Linked DNA regions of Homo sapiens: regions 1 and 3 are each reported to be linked to region 2. The links are microRNA targets in miRTarBase. Many come from high-throughput screens and were not tested one by one. Region 2 holds a microRNA gene; each other region holds the end of a gene's coding sequence.
Evidence for each region. The annotated mature microRNA hsa-miR-195-3p reads CCAAUAUUGGCUGUGCUGCUCC and lies in region 2 at 1,453-1,474, shown strand. An mRNA with a match to its seed (bases 2 to 7 or 8) in the 3' UTR can be bound and repressed. Matches are read on the target gene's strand: a 7mer-m8 pairs with bases 2 to 8, a 7mer-A1 pairs with bases 2 to 7 and ends in A, and an 8mer does both.

Region 1 (4,132 bases), not on the chromosome of region 2:
TACAGTGATCAACTAGTTACACACTGAATCATGGGAGAAAGGCCATAGGCTGATTGTCACTTTGAGTTATGCCTTAATTACCCTGTTTCTAGTGCACTAACTTGCCAGCCACCTTCTTTTTTGTCCCCTTTATTTTTCTAAGAAGGGCAAAACATCCTTGAAGATCACTGTTATATTCATAGCAATGTGTTTTACGTTTATGGAAAACCTAAAAACCAGAGAAAGCCCACAAAATAACAGTCATTTCAAACCAGAGACAATGCATTTTTTCTCATTTATTCAAATTCACTGCAGGAAGTAAACACTAAAAGATTAAAAAACAAAACAAAAAAATTCACACTGCAGTATGTACAGTTTCATGACATCACATGAAGAAATTAAATTTCTAATAAAAATGGCAAATTATATTACTGAGCAGATCGCATCAAATTTGGTTGTGTAAACACCAGAATTCTTACTATGAATGGTAATGTGCCTATATTCCAGTATTGCTAATACTGGGATACTCTTGGAATAATGTTTGCAATGGGATTAAAAAATTCATGAAAGTAGTTGTGTGAATTCTTTATGTTTAAAAGTGGTTGACGATTAAAAAAATTCTTTAAGACCCTTCGAATCAAAGCACATTCTTTCACAAAGCTTAAACCACAGACGTCATGTCCAGAAATGGAATACTGTCATGTTAGGATGAACATCTGATCTGATTTGTTAAGACATTTTGCCAAATGCACAGATGCACAGGGTCCCCCATGCACTTTTCATGCAGCAGGTAATCACAACTTAAATAAAAGGTTTATTCTATACATTTGTCCAGACTTGCAACTGTATACATACATGCACAACTTTTAAACCTGTCTGATTATATTTACACTTATACATGGAATATACAGGAACCAAAGAGATTAAAAGGCTTTTCTGTTGCATTAGAACAATACAAAATATGTATTTTTCATTAAGGAAATCACTATTTACATCACCTTTAAAAACCGATTTTAACATCTTCATGTAACAAGTCAATATATATATATATACATATTATATATATATATATATATATATATATAAAATATATACTCTCACCAGTTTACTCTTCTGTAAGATGCAGCAGAGAATAAACAGGTAATGAATGCTACCTTACTGATGTCAATAAGCTGTAGTACCCTTTCACAAATGACTTTATTAGAAGAAATTGTCTAGATATCTAAAATAGTCCTTGAAAATGTGTATATGTGCATCCTTGTATCTACATATGCATAAACAAAGTGAATCTGTGGATGTATGCCCTTTCTCACTGTTCTTTAAAATCACCCTAAATTCAAATTGGGAACATTCTCTAGTAAATCAGAACAGCATTCTTCGTGGTCATGTTTATTTAAGTATTACATATTCTCATTCCTTTGTTAACAACAACGAAAACAACCAGCCAACCAAAAAAACAAAACAAAACCCACACACACACACACAAAAGTAGCAATGCTGGCCCTTGGTCTTTTCCCTGACCTAAATTTCACTCTCTTGTAAAAAGGTCATTTCCCCCTACCCAAGGGAGAATACCAACATATTTTTTCTGACATACCTCTAAGGCTCCAAACCTTCCACAACGATCAAGAAAAATGACTTGTTTAAAAGCTTATTTATATAGTGTTGACAATAAGATTGTCATAGTATGGACATGGAATAGAATATATTCAACTGGCCAGTGGAATTTTATGTCAGAATAAGCCTATGCCTTCACTTCTCCATGATGTTGCATAATACCCACTCCTATTACTGTATAATATTTCCAGTAGCTATTTACAAATCATTCTGAGGAAAAATAACCATTTAGGGTTTTAGATCATATTAGGAAATCACACCTATTTTTAATATAAAAATCTTAGAAACCACTTCAAGTAGAACAATTTTAAATCAATATCCTAACTAGTAGTGATTATAGAATAATTTTTGATAGGTCATTTGCTAACCTGGTTCACAATTAAGAACAAAATATCTGGTGAATGAATTGTGGATTGTACAAACTGAACATAAAAACAGACCTGTTTCGCAACTGAAACCCCATGTGGCTTCACTAATATATTAATTTCTTCTAAGACAGTATCAACATGTACTTTTCATCACTACTTTAAAGTAAAAGATCCAATGGAGTGATTGTGTACAATTCTGTCACGTATATGTGCCCTTTGTACTTTTTATTTAGTCAATCTGAGTTTAGTGCCCTTCTTGGGTTTAAACTAAATGTTGTAAGCTTTGTTGGCATTGTTCTTAGGACAATGGTTTTAATAAAGGTTAAGGATGCATTCAGGAGAAGTTTCCAAACCATCCTGGAATCACCTGAGTTTGGTAAGTGGCCCTGTTTTTCCATCCCTAAGGCTAACTAAGTAGATGTTACTCATTAGAACACACAAATAATCACAGATTTTCCTGAGATGTTGAGCCAGATATGAAAGTTATCCCCTCCACCCAATTTTTGTCATAAAAAGTGTTCTGAACCCGATTTCCAAAGACATAACGGTAATATATGAACTACAATATTGCAAATTTTGAGCTGATGTGTGACTGTATTGGGGAAAATAGAGGCATCACATAGTTTTTTGTTTTTGTTTTACAGTCTCATGTTCTGAGGAAAGTCATAAGTCATGGTTCTCAAACACAAGAAACACCTAGAGAGCATGTTAAGATGCAGATGGAAGATTCCAGGTCCACTTAGCAGAGATTCTTGTTCTGTAGATCTGAGATGCTGCCTATGAATCTGCATTTTAAAACAAGTGCTCCAGATGGTTCTAATGCAAGTGGTCTGAGTTCAGGTTTAAGGAATCCTGGTCATAACACTCGCAGGTACCACAGGAATGGTGAGAATTAACTTTTACAAGAGATGGTGAAAACTGTCCAAAGAAAAGCCATTTTGCTTCTGTTAAAAACAATTTCTTAAATATTCAACTTTTCAGGAAACCACCTAAAGATAAATGTTAACTTTTCTAATTCTGTAAAAGGAGGAGTATTAATTTAGTAAAGTAGTTAAAATACAAAAAATGGAAATCTGCCTTTTTTTTAAAGGATCTATCAAACTTCCCTCAATTGTAATCAATTTTTACTAAGTAGCACAAGGTTTAAAGAAATATATATTGAAAAGGATCAGGGTGGGACAGACACATTGGGAACCACAAAACCTCTTCCAAGAGTTAAAAATAAACACCTTTTTTTTTTCTTTTTAGCAAAAGTGAAAAATGTAAGCATATATTTTTCTAATTTATTTTTGAATTGGATAATAAGCTGTGAATCAGCACTAGGTTTTTTTTTATTGGATAATTATCCTTTAAAGAGTTGTTTAACAGTTTAGACTTTAAAAATGTGTTATGTAGGCTGACTTCTGAAAAGCAAAATAAAGTACCCTAATAAAGGCAGCAAAATGCATTAATCCACTATGAATGGAGTTTTACATTTTAATTTATGCCTAATATTTATAAAAGAATTTCATTCATAGGCTACTCACAGTTGTTATCTGATGCATACAGAAGTGTTAAACAACCAATTGCTAGTTCAGTAGTTTCCTCATGACATCTAATGTTAAGCAAAAATTAGTATGCATATTTCAACATCACCAGTAACCAATACTTTTCAAAATGAAAAAAGTTTCAATTATACCATGCTTTTTTTCAAATCATGCTCTTATTTATACAGATCTCAAGTTCATACTCATTAGTTTTAAAAAGATCCAAAACTGGATGGCAGGTACATTTTATTCTGATTCTTTCTTTATCGTTAGCACGCTTCCCAGAAGTCCATAAACTTCTCCATTTGCGCTGTGTGGGCGAGAAGCATTATTTCCCATATGGCTATTGTAAGGGCTTCTTAAATTAAAGAAAGAAGCTTTCGTTTCTGCAGTAGGAAGTAACTCTTCTTTGGCTGTGACCTGTGAGACACTTTCAGCAGATGAAGCCTCCCTCCAAATGTCCTTGTCTTGTGTTTCTCGACTGGTAACAGAATTGCCTCCTTTTTGAAGCATGTAATATAGTATTGGGTTGGTTTTGGTCAATCTTGGAGAGTCTTTTTCATACTCATTCTTCTCCGCATCAGTGATAACCCACTTAATGGGTCCTTTCTCACTGGGCATGGAACACCCATTCAAAAGCCC
Region 2 (4,310 bases):
TGTTAGTTTGGGGGCTATGGAGGGTGGTGGAGGAGCAGGAGGCCTTGGCAAGATTTGATGGAGGGCAGATAGGGGTGTCCGGGAGGGGTCTGGCATCTTCGGGGGCCTAAAAAGACTGCTTACATACACCACCTTGGATCTTTCAGATTGCTAAGAGTTTTGGGGGGTGTGTCGGAAGAGGGGGTGGTAAAAGATGCGATGGGATATAGGAAGATAACTTCTGGATTTTAGGGGGTCATATTTTGATTTGCAAAAGGAGTTTTGGCCCTTGGATTTTGCTTTCTGAGGGGTGTTTTTAAAAAATCAAGTCCTGGACAGGAGAAAAGGGCTGAGGGAAGGCCTGGAGTTGGGGGTGGGGAGAGGCATGTTTGTCTCAGCTTAAACGTGGCTCTCTGGGGTGGGCCCGCCTGCCCTGGCCTGGTGGATGGGCTGATGGAGGTTGCTGTGGGGGCCGGCTCGGGTCCTCAGGGGCCCTGGGGAGTGGGAACAGCACTGGGGGTTGAATACCTGGCCCCCCAGGTCCAGATGGCCCTCTTCCTGGGCTCTGCTGCTCCCCTTCCCCCTGGTCTCCATTTCCTGCCTTTGGCCTCCATCTTGTGGCAGGCCCAGGGCCCAGGGCGACTTCCGGCCCCCCTCTCCCAACCATGTTCCGGCCCCACCACCTCTGGACTGCCAACTCCCAACCCTGCTGGCCTTGGCCCTCTGTCTCTCCTTGCTTTTCTCTTGGGTTCTGACCCAGGGAGAGGAAGGACGGACACAGGAAGCCTTGGGTCCCTGCCCTTGCTGAGACAGGAGGCAGTGTGTTGGCCCCTCCAGTCATTCCCTATTTCTTCTGCCTCTGACCCCACCCTAGGGATCCCCTGAGCTGAGTTCCTACAGAGGGAAGATGGTCCAATCTTACTACACTGTGAGCTCATCCCCATGGTCCGTCGCCTTCCAGTTGCCTGCTCAGCCCGTCCCTGGTTCCTCCCAAACGTTTTTGGGGGCCATGTTTGCCTTTTAAGGCTTCTCTATCCCCCCGCTCCTGGAGGTGGTGCTGGGGTCTTCCCAGCACTGCTATGTGCTCTCTTCCTTTCAACCCACCCCGGTCCTGCTCCCGCCCCAGCAGCACACTGTGGTTTGTACGGCACTGTGGCCACGTCCAAACCACACTGTGGTGTTAGAGCGAGGGTGGGGGAGGCACCGCCGAGGCTTGGCCCTGGGAGGCCATCCTGGAGAAGTGACACAAAAAACATCTGGGGCCTTGTGACAAACTTCTTGCCAGGTGGGCAAGGAGAGGGTGGGGTATGTAAGCACCCCTCTAAAATCTCCAGGGCAGTTTCAAGAATACTGATGGCCAGAGACCCTGGGAGTAAGTTCTGCCTCAAGAGAACAAAGTGGAGTCTTTGTTGCCCACACCCAGCTTCCCTGGCTCTAGCAGCACAGAAATATTGGCACAGGGAAGCGAGTCTGCCAATATTGGCTGTGCTGCTCCAGGCAGGGTGGTGAAAACTACCGAGGAGGGGCTGAGCCCCCATGGGCCGAGGAGAGAAGAGGGAACAGGCCTCTCCTGCTAATAATGTTAAGCAGACAGCACGAAGCTGAGAGGGAAATCTTTATTGTTTTCTGTATAAAAATGTCCATCAGATGAAGGTCAAAGGGGTTGGGGGCAGATGCTTATGCGGGAATAGCGAGGTGGCAGCCCCAGCAGCCTTTCAGCCCTCTCTCGTGCAGGCCTTGCTCGGAGTCCCAGGAGATCCACAGGTCCGGCATGAACAGTGAGAGGTCAGAGGTGGAAGGCTCAGCAGGAGAGGAGAGGAGGATCAGCAGAGGTCATGAGAAGGCCAGAATCCAGGGTCAGGCTGTCTGGAACAGGAAGTAAAATGGGCCGAGATGGAGCGAGCCCCCAGTGTGCTTCCAAGGCCACTCCCACCTCCCTGAAACACCCTGCTACGTACTGATCCAATGCCCTGCGCTGTGTATGAGAGCACCTTCTCTTCTGAAACCCCTATACAAGGGAGGGGCCCCTGCGGAGACCGTGCCCTGCCATCCAGGTGAGCCCTTTCTCCCCAACCCCGTCAGCTGTGTGGGAGGAGGAGGACTCCTACCCTGGTCGAAGTTGAGTTTCTTAGCTGGAGGAGTTTCTCCTAGCCCTTCAATATCCACCACGTCACTGTTGGCATCGGAGTCGTTCAGAGCACTGAGTGTCACATCTGGGAAGGGGGCATAAGCTAGGTTCTAGGTTCCCCTGACAGCCTCTCCCCCAGCCCCAAGCTTCCCAAAGCTTTGTGCCTCCTCTCCCCTCCCCTCTGCCCCTCTCTGGGAACCTCCACAGGGACAGGAAGAGAGACTGACCCTTCTTTGACCCAGGCCCAATTCTCTCACTAAACCTCAGATGGGACCTTTAACCCCTAGGCAGCAACTCCACAGCCCTCACCAGCCTTCTGTTTCTTTATGGGGGGACCCCCGGCCTCAGGGACACTGGAGCTGCTGGGAGGAGGGGCAGCTGGAGGAGGTGACAAGACACCAGATGCCACCTTCTTGGGCCCTTTCTTGGGTGACTCAGCTGGAAGGGGGATGCCAGAATCTTCATATACCTTGCGTTTCACAGTGGCCTTTATCTGGGCCCTGAAGAAAAGAGAGAAGAGGTTAGGAAAGGAGTCATCAGAGAGACTAACAGAAGAGGGGACGGGAGGGGAAGGGGTTCTGGGAGTCCCTTCATAAGAATCCAGGTCGGGGCCCCAACCCATTGGTAGGGTTCTCACTTTCTCGAAGTTTTACACTCACTCAGGATGGATGGAGTGTGGAGAGTGGAGTCCCTGAACTGAGTAGTGGGAAAGGCCCATCTCCTAATTCTCTTCTGGGAGAGACATCAGGTAGAGCTTGGTGATTTACAGGTGGATTGAGATTTACTGATCAACTAGTTCAGGGTCACCATATCCCTGGAAACACTGCAGTGGGGTCCTCAAACATTTATATAAATAACCAGGGGACTTCCATCATCAAATACAATAACAGCATCTCAGGCAACCTAAATTCACATTCTTGGAAGGATTACCACAGCATTTTAGGAACTTCTGACCAACTGTGACAATTCTATTCTTTCAGTCCTCAAGGGGATTCTAAAAAACTAGTGACAAAGTAGGGAAGCAGCTGAGCTGGAAAGGAGTTCTGAGGACGATGGAACCTTGGGTAAGGAGGAAGAAGGCTGCCCACCCGCCCTTTTCTGGCAGCCACCCTCCCTCACACTGTCCGTTCCTTGATGACACAGCTGATGTGATTAAGATCGTCCCCAAATCGCTTCACAGCAGCCCTCAGCATCTCTATTTCCGTCTCCGTCCACTTCGCACTGTCAGAAGGGGAGAGGGGGGATAGCAAAAATGGGAGGGGGGGTGTGGAGCCCGCCCACAGGCTATGCATCCCACAGCCAACCAGCCGCCTCCTTCCGATTTCTGGGACCCCTTCCACGGATGCATAAAGAGGTCCTCCGTAAGGGGAGGCGGAAAGCTCTTGAGGCCCTGCGGGAACCGGGAGGACCCCAATCACAAGAAATCACAACCACCTCCACCTTAGACACCCCTTTCCACCATCAACGTTAAACGGCTGCTGTACACAGCACACTGAAACCAACTCGCCAGGAAGGGCTTTTCAAAACAGACCCACCAACACAGCCTGCAGCCGTCTGGGGGAATTCCATGAACTGGGGTGGTTGGGAGTGGCGGTGGTTTGTGGTCGACCCGTTCGCAGCAGGGAGAACTGTGAAACAGGAGTCTGGGCTATGGGCCTGTCTGTATTTTTATCTGTCATTCATTCCCTCACCCAACGATCATTTATTAACACCGACTCTGTGCTGTGCCACGCACAAAGGGAAACTAATGTCTGTCCCTGTGCTAGAGAGGGTCCGTGTCTGTGACCGAGTCCAAGCGCCCGCTCTCAGCGTCCACGTCCCAGTCCGGGCTCACGTACCCCGCAGGAGAAGAGTCGGCCACGGGATGCAGCTGCATCGTCAGCTCCCCGAGCTTCGTGAAGGCGGCGCCGGCCGCCGAGAAGATCTCTCCGACCTGGGGGCGGGGCAGCGTCACGGGGGGCCGGCGCCCGCCCTCCCCGTCCCGCCCGGAGCCCCTAGCCCCACCCCAGGCTCGGCTCCCGCCCGCCCCCCGCCCGGGGCGGAAGAGCCGCGAGCCAAGTGGGGGGCCCGCCCTCCCGTGGCCGCCAGGGAGCGCTGTCCGCGAGGGAGGTCGAACCTTTGTGGACGCTGACGTCATGGCCCCGCGCGCCTCCTCACGGAGACGCCGCCGCCGCCGCTACACGCGAGCCGGGACCACGGAGAG
Region 3 (4,132 bases), not on the chromosome of region 2:
ATATATGCCTTCTGAGAGAGACACTGACTTGTCAGTTGGGTTGGGGTGGTAATCAGTGATGATCTCTGAGTCCTGTGTGGCAACCTTTCCACTTGCTGGACTACTCAGCATACTAGCCGTCTATCTAGGCCTTACCCAAACTCTATGCCCACGGGCAGAGTGATTTCCTCACAAACAATAAAAATAACTGGCTTCTCTGCAGGAATCCAGAGTTTCTGTAAGGACTTGGTGGAGGTGGCTGACATTTTGGAGAAGACTACAGAGTGCATTTCTGAAGAATCGGAGCCTGAGGACCAAAAGCTCACTCTGGAGAAGGTCTTCCGAGGGTTGTTGCTTTTAGAAGCAAAGCTGAAAAGTGTGTTTGCCAAGCATGGCCTGGAGAAACTGACACCCATTGGTGACAAATATGACCCCCATGAGCATGAACTCATCTGTCATGTGCCAGCTGGTGTTGGGGTGCAGCCTGGCACCGTGGCATTAGTAAGACAAGATGGCTACAAACTTCATGGCCGCACCATTAGGCTTGCCCGAGTGGAAGTGGCAGTGGAGTCTCAGAGAAGACTGTGAAGAGGCCATCAGGAACTGGATGTTCTCCCAGAGCGCAGTCACCTATGTTTCTTTTATTTATTAAACTAGGTTTGTATTGTACATGAGGTACTTCATGTGATATGTTTTGGATTTAGTCATATTGGCTTTATTTCTAAGATATTCTATTGATTTAATGTGACCTGTTTGGTCTCATCAGAAGTCTTACCATTGGGCATTTGAACAGTGTGACAGGTGTTCCAATGGCCTTTATCAAAACATGTTTAGGAAAATTGGTACTGTGATAAATTTGAATCCAAAATCCTTTTAACTATGGGTTTTCAACTACATGTTTCTTCCTAGCGGTCTCTATAACAGGAATTGTGTAGTATCTTGTATTTTGTGGAAAAAGGAGATGGTAGGGATTGGTTCAACATTTGGGTACTTAGAGGATAAAGCTTCGTGGTCGTATAAATTTAGATCATTTGGATTGATTTTTATACACATAGATTTTCAGGACTTTACCTTTTGTTTTGTTTTTTTCCTTTTAGCCATCTTTTGTTCTTGTAATCCCAACTAGATAGGCTTTATGCTCACATCATTGTCCCATACCCACCCCTTTCTCATCCCCATTTGCAGGGGCTAAAGGTCTAGATGAGACTTGGAAGGCAAGGAGCATCGAAATTTGAGATACCCAGGACCCTTTCAAGCAAGAATGGCCAAAAAGCCTTGTGCTGTCTTTGCTCTTCAAATTATTTTCAGCCTCCTTGTCATATAATCATTTCAGGCAAACTGAGGCAACACTAACAGCTAATGACCCAGATGGCTCTATTTGGGTAATTTACCTACAACTTATTCCACCAGCCTTTACTCCTCTGCCCTTTTGTCAATTTTACCTTATAATCCTTTATTAAATGATGGGAGGTGGTGATCAGGACAAAAGTGTTAGGTTCCCATGATTTCTCATTTCATTTATTAATAGTTAATGCTGAATTTTTTTTTAAGTTTCCTCTGGCTCTATTTATGTTACTTTTTGCGATAAGAACACTTAACATAAGTATTCTCTCCTCTTGGCAATTTTTTTTTTTTTTCCTGTGTTGCCCAGGCTGACCTCCAACTCCTGGGCCCAAGCAATCCTGCCTCAGCCTGCCAAGTAGCTAGGACTACAGGCGTTCACCACTGCGCCCGCAAAGTTTTTTTGTTGTTTTTTTTTTTAAGTTGGTACTCACAAATCACTACCTCTGTTATATTGACAAGCTCTATTTCCTATTCTTTGTATCTGTTAAGTCACATCTGTGTAAACATTGAGCTCACCTTTTATATATTAACCTCTAGAATTAATGGGCCTATGTGGTTTTTTTTCAGTCTTATAGCTGGTGTTCTGTAAAAGATTTGTCCAATAAACGACTTAATGAATGATACATCAGTCAGATTTTAGGAAGGCAGTCAATTATGGATATTTTAATGTTGGAAGAGGCCTTAATGATCAAATCTCACCCTTTCTGCTTCTGAAGTATGAAAATCTAGTCTTTTTAGGACTGGACACAAGGAAAATAATCTCTAAACTATTGACTAAATTCCAGTGAGAGTATGAATGAAGAACAACTAGATATTAATGTCAATCATTTAAGATTAATGGGCATGCAATTAAGTCTCCATTTAAGATTAATGGGCATGCAATGAAGTCTCCAGCAGACAATCAGATGTTGTTGGATGTCTAGATTATATAGGTTTAGGTTGAAGTTATAAAATAAAATAAAATTCATTTTCCACTGGAACTCTATGACATTCAGTGGAGTGGTGGAAAGTTAACCTCTTATACATTATAGATAATTCTAAGACAGCACACAAACTTATCAATAAAGCCATCTCCTTGTGGGCCTTACCATCTTCATCAGATTTAGACCCTTAAAAAACAAGTAAATATGCACTTTTAAAATGCAATCAAAAGACTGGTGGTTAAGCTTGTAAAACCAGAACATCTTTTGGCATTCCACTAAGTATATATTGTAAATTTAATGAACAATCAAGGTTCACAATAGGAAGTTGTCTTTTTTTGCCTTCCATTCTGTGAGATTTGACAGATGGTGACAATAAGAAAATGAGCTGATTGTAATTACTCTCTGTGTGTTTTTTTATTGCTAGCTATCATTACCAGTTAGAATTAACATTAATTACAATTAACAATAATTTTAGGTATGGAATGTTATGATTACCTAAAGAGATGTCTCTACCTAATGAGCTCAAGTGATCCTCCCACCTCAGCCTACCAAGTAGCCAGGACCACAGGCAAGTGCACCACCATGACTGGCTAGTTTTGTTTTTTGGTTTTTGGTTTTTGGTTTTTGGTTTTTTTTTTTTGGTTGGTTGGTTGTTTTTTACAGGCGGGGTCTCACTATATTGTCCAGGCTAGAAGAATTTTCTAATGGTCTATTACACCTCCCGTTTTGGCAAGTAAATTCAGAATAATTTTAGGTTCTTTTGTTATTCAGTAGTTTTGCAGACTTAAAAGTGTAAATTTAGAATTAGAAGATGAAGCTATAGTAGTAAGAATCTCAAGCTGAAGGGCTTTGGGGAGCCAAAGCAGCATATTAGAGCATAGGCTTGAACTTAAATCTCAGCTCAGTCACCTGCAGGACTTTAGGCACCAGTGATTTCACCCTTCTGAGCCTGTTTCTTTATTCGTAAAATGATTATAATAATTCTTTCACAGCGTTGTGAGGATTAAGTGAAATGTGTTAAATGCCTACTACAGTAGGTGCTCAGATATTTATTTTTATTTTTTTATTATGCACATTGTTTTTCCTGCCTTTTTATGGCTGTCTAAAGTCTAGGGAAAAGGGAAGACTGGTTAATGATGAGTAGAAAAAACTTGTAAGCTAATCATTCACTGACTTATTTTCCTTCCATTTTCTGGTTTTTAAAATTAGCCACACCACAGGAAACCCACATTTTTAGATGGAAAGAGCAAGAAAATTGTGTCAGTGCTCTTAGTTATTTTCATCTTAATGGTATAGTGAAAAGACATTGACTTGAGATGATACTAAGGAAGCTTTGGCTCACTCTCACTTGAAGAGGGGATCTTGGTGTTGTAGTACTTGGACTGTACAAATGTTTTACTGACTTTTCTTACTGCTGTAAAGGAATCAGGCAGTTGGGTATTGATATGTTATTTGGTGCTCTCATTCATGGCAAAGGATTTGATAAATAAAAGTTCTTTAAACACTAAAGCAAAATCAAATGAGCAAAACTAAGGATGAAATGTAATATTCATCAGAACAAGGATCACTGAGAAAAAATATTCAGAAACAACTTTAATAAAACCTGAATTGAAATAACTGCAGCTCTGGTGTTTAGAGTCTTTGTCTGCCTATTCGTATTGTATATGGAACATTATGGTCACTTCATGACTGCTGACCTGCCTTGTTGATGCTCTGGAGAGGTACCTTGAGATCTCATAGCAGCATAGCCAAGTGGATGCACTGTGGGCTTTCCCCACCCTGCCTCCGTGTTGAAGTCTTGTCTGTTTTATTCCTCCTTGACTTGCCTCTTTCTGATTGCTACATATTTCTTAGATCTGGATTCCTATTTCTGCCTTTTTTTTTTT

Region 1: the mRNA of NRIP1 is a reported target of hsa-miR-195-3p. Seed matches in the 3' UTR shown: 7mer-m8 at 2,527-2,533, 7mer-A1 at 1,909-1,915 and 7mer-A1 at 1,014-1,020.
Region 3: the mRNA of GRPEL2 is a reported target of hsa-miR-195-3p. Seed matches in the 3' UTR shown: 7mer-A1 at 1,772-1,778.

What each region holds. Positions count from the first base shown.
Region 1 is chr21:14,960,980-14,965,111 of GRCh38, forward strand. NRIP1 (nuclear receptor interacting protein 1) reads right to left here. Exons shown (of 4, transcript NM_003489.4): 4 at 256-4,132. The coding sequence ends at 3,737. Among named protein-coding and RNA genes, the nearest start is that of ASMER1, 44 kb to the left of the region's middle.
Region 2 is chr17:7,014,792-7,019,101 of GRCh38, reverse strand. MIR195 (microRNA 195) reads left to right here and starts at 1,401; the gene lies at 1,401-1,487. BACC1 (BPTF associated chromatin complex component 1) reads right to left here. Exons shown (of 6, transcript NM_174893.4): 1 at 4,224-4,310; 2 at 3,946-4,040; 3 at 3,227-3,328; 4 at 2,417-2,607; 5 at 2,088-2,192; 6 at 1,582-1,841. The coding sequence starts at 4,244. The coding sequence ends at 1,837. RNASEK-C17orf49 (RNASEK-C17orf49 readthrough) reads right to left here. Exons shown (of 8, transcript NR_037717.1): 3 at 4,224-4,310; 4 at 3,946-4,040; 5 at 3,227-3,328; 6 at 2,417-2,607; 7 at 2,088-2,192; 8 at 1,578-1,841. It overlaps MIR497HG (mir-497-195 cluster host gene), which reads left to right. Exons shown (of 3, transcript NR_038310.1): 2 at 1,714-2,033; 3 at 3,088-3,284. It also overlaps MIR497. RefSeq lists enhancers at 374-543, 1,895-3,094, 3,507-4,007 and a silencer at 3,938-4,310.
Region 3 is chr5:149,350,716-149,354,847 of GRCh38, forward strand. GRPEL2 (GrpE like 2, mitochondrial) reads left to right here. Exons shown (of 4, transcript NM_152407.4): 4 at 203-3,868. The coding sequence ends at 567. All of the region lies in intron 1 of GRPEL2-AS1 (GRPEL2 antisense RNA 1), which reads right to left. Among named protein-coding and RNA genes, the nearest start is that of GRPEL2-AS1, 4.9 kb to the right of the region's middle.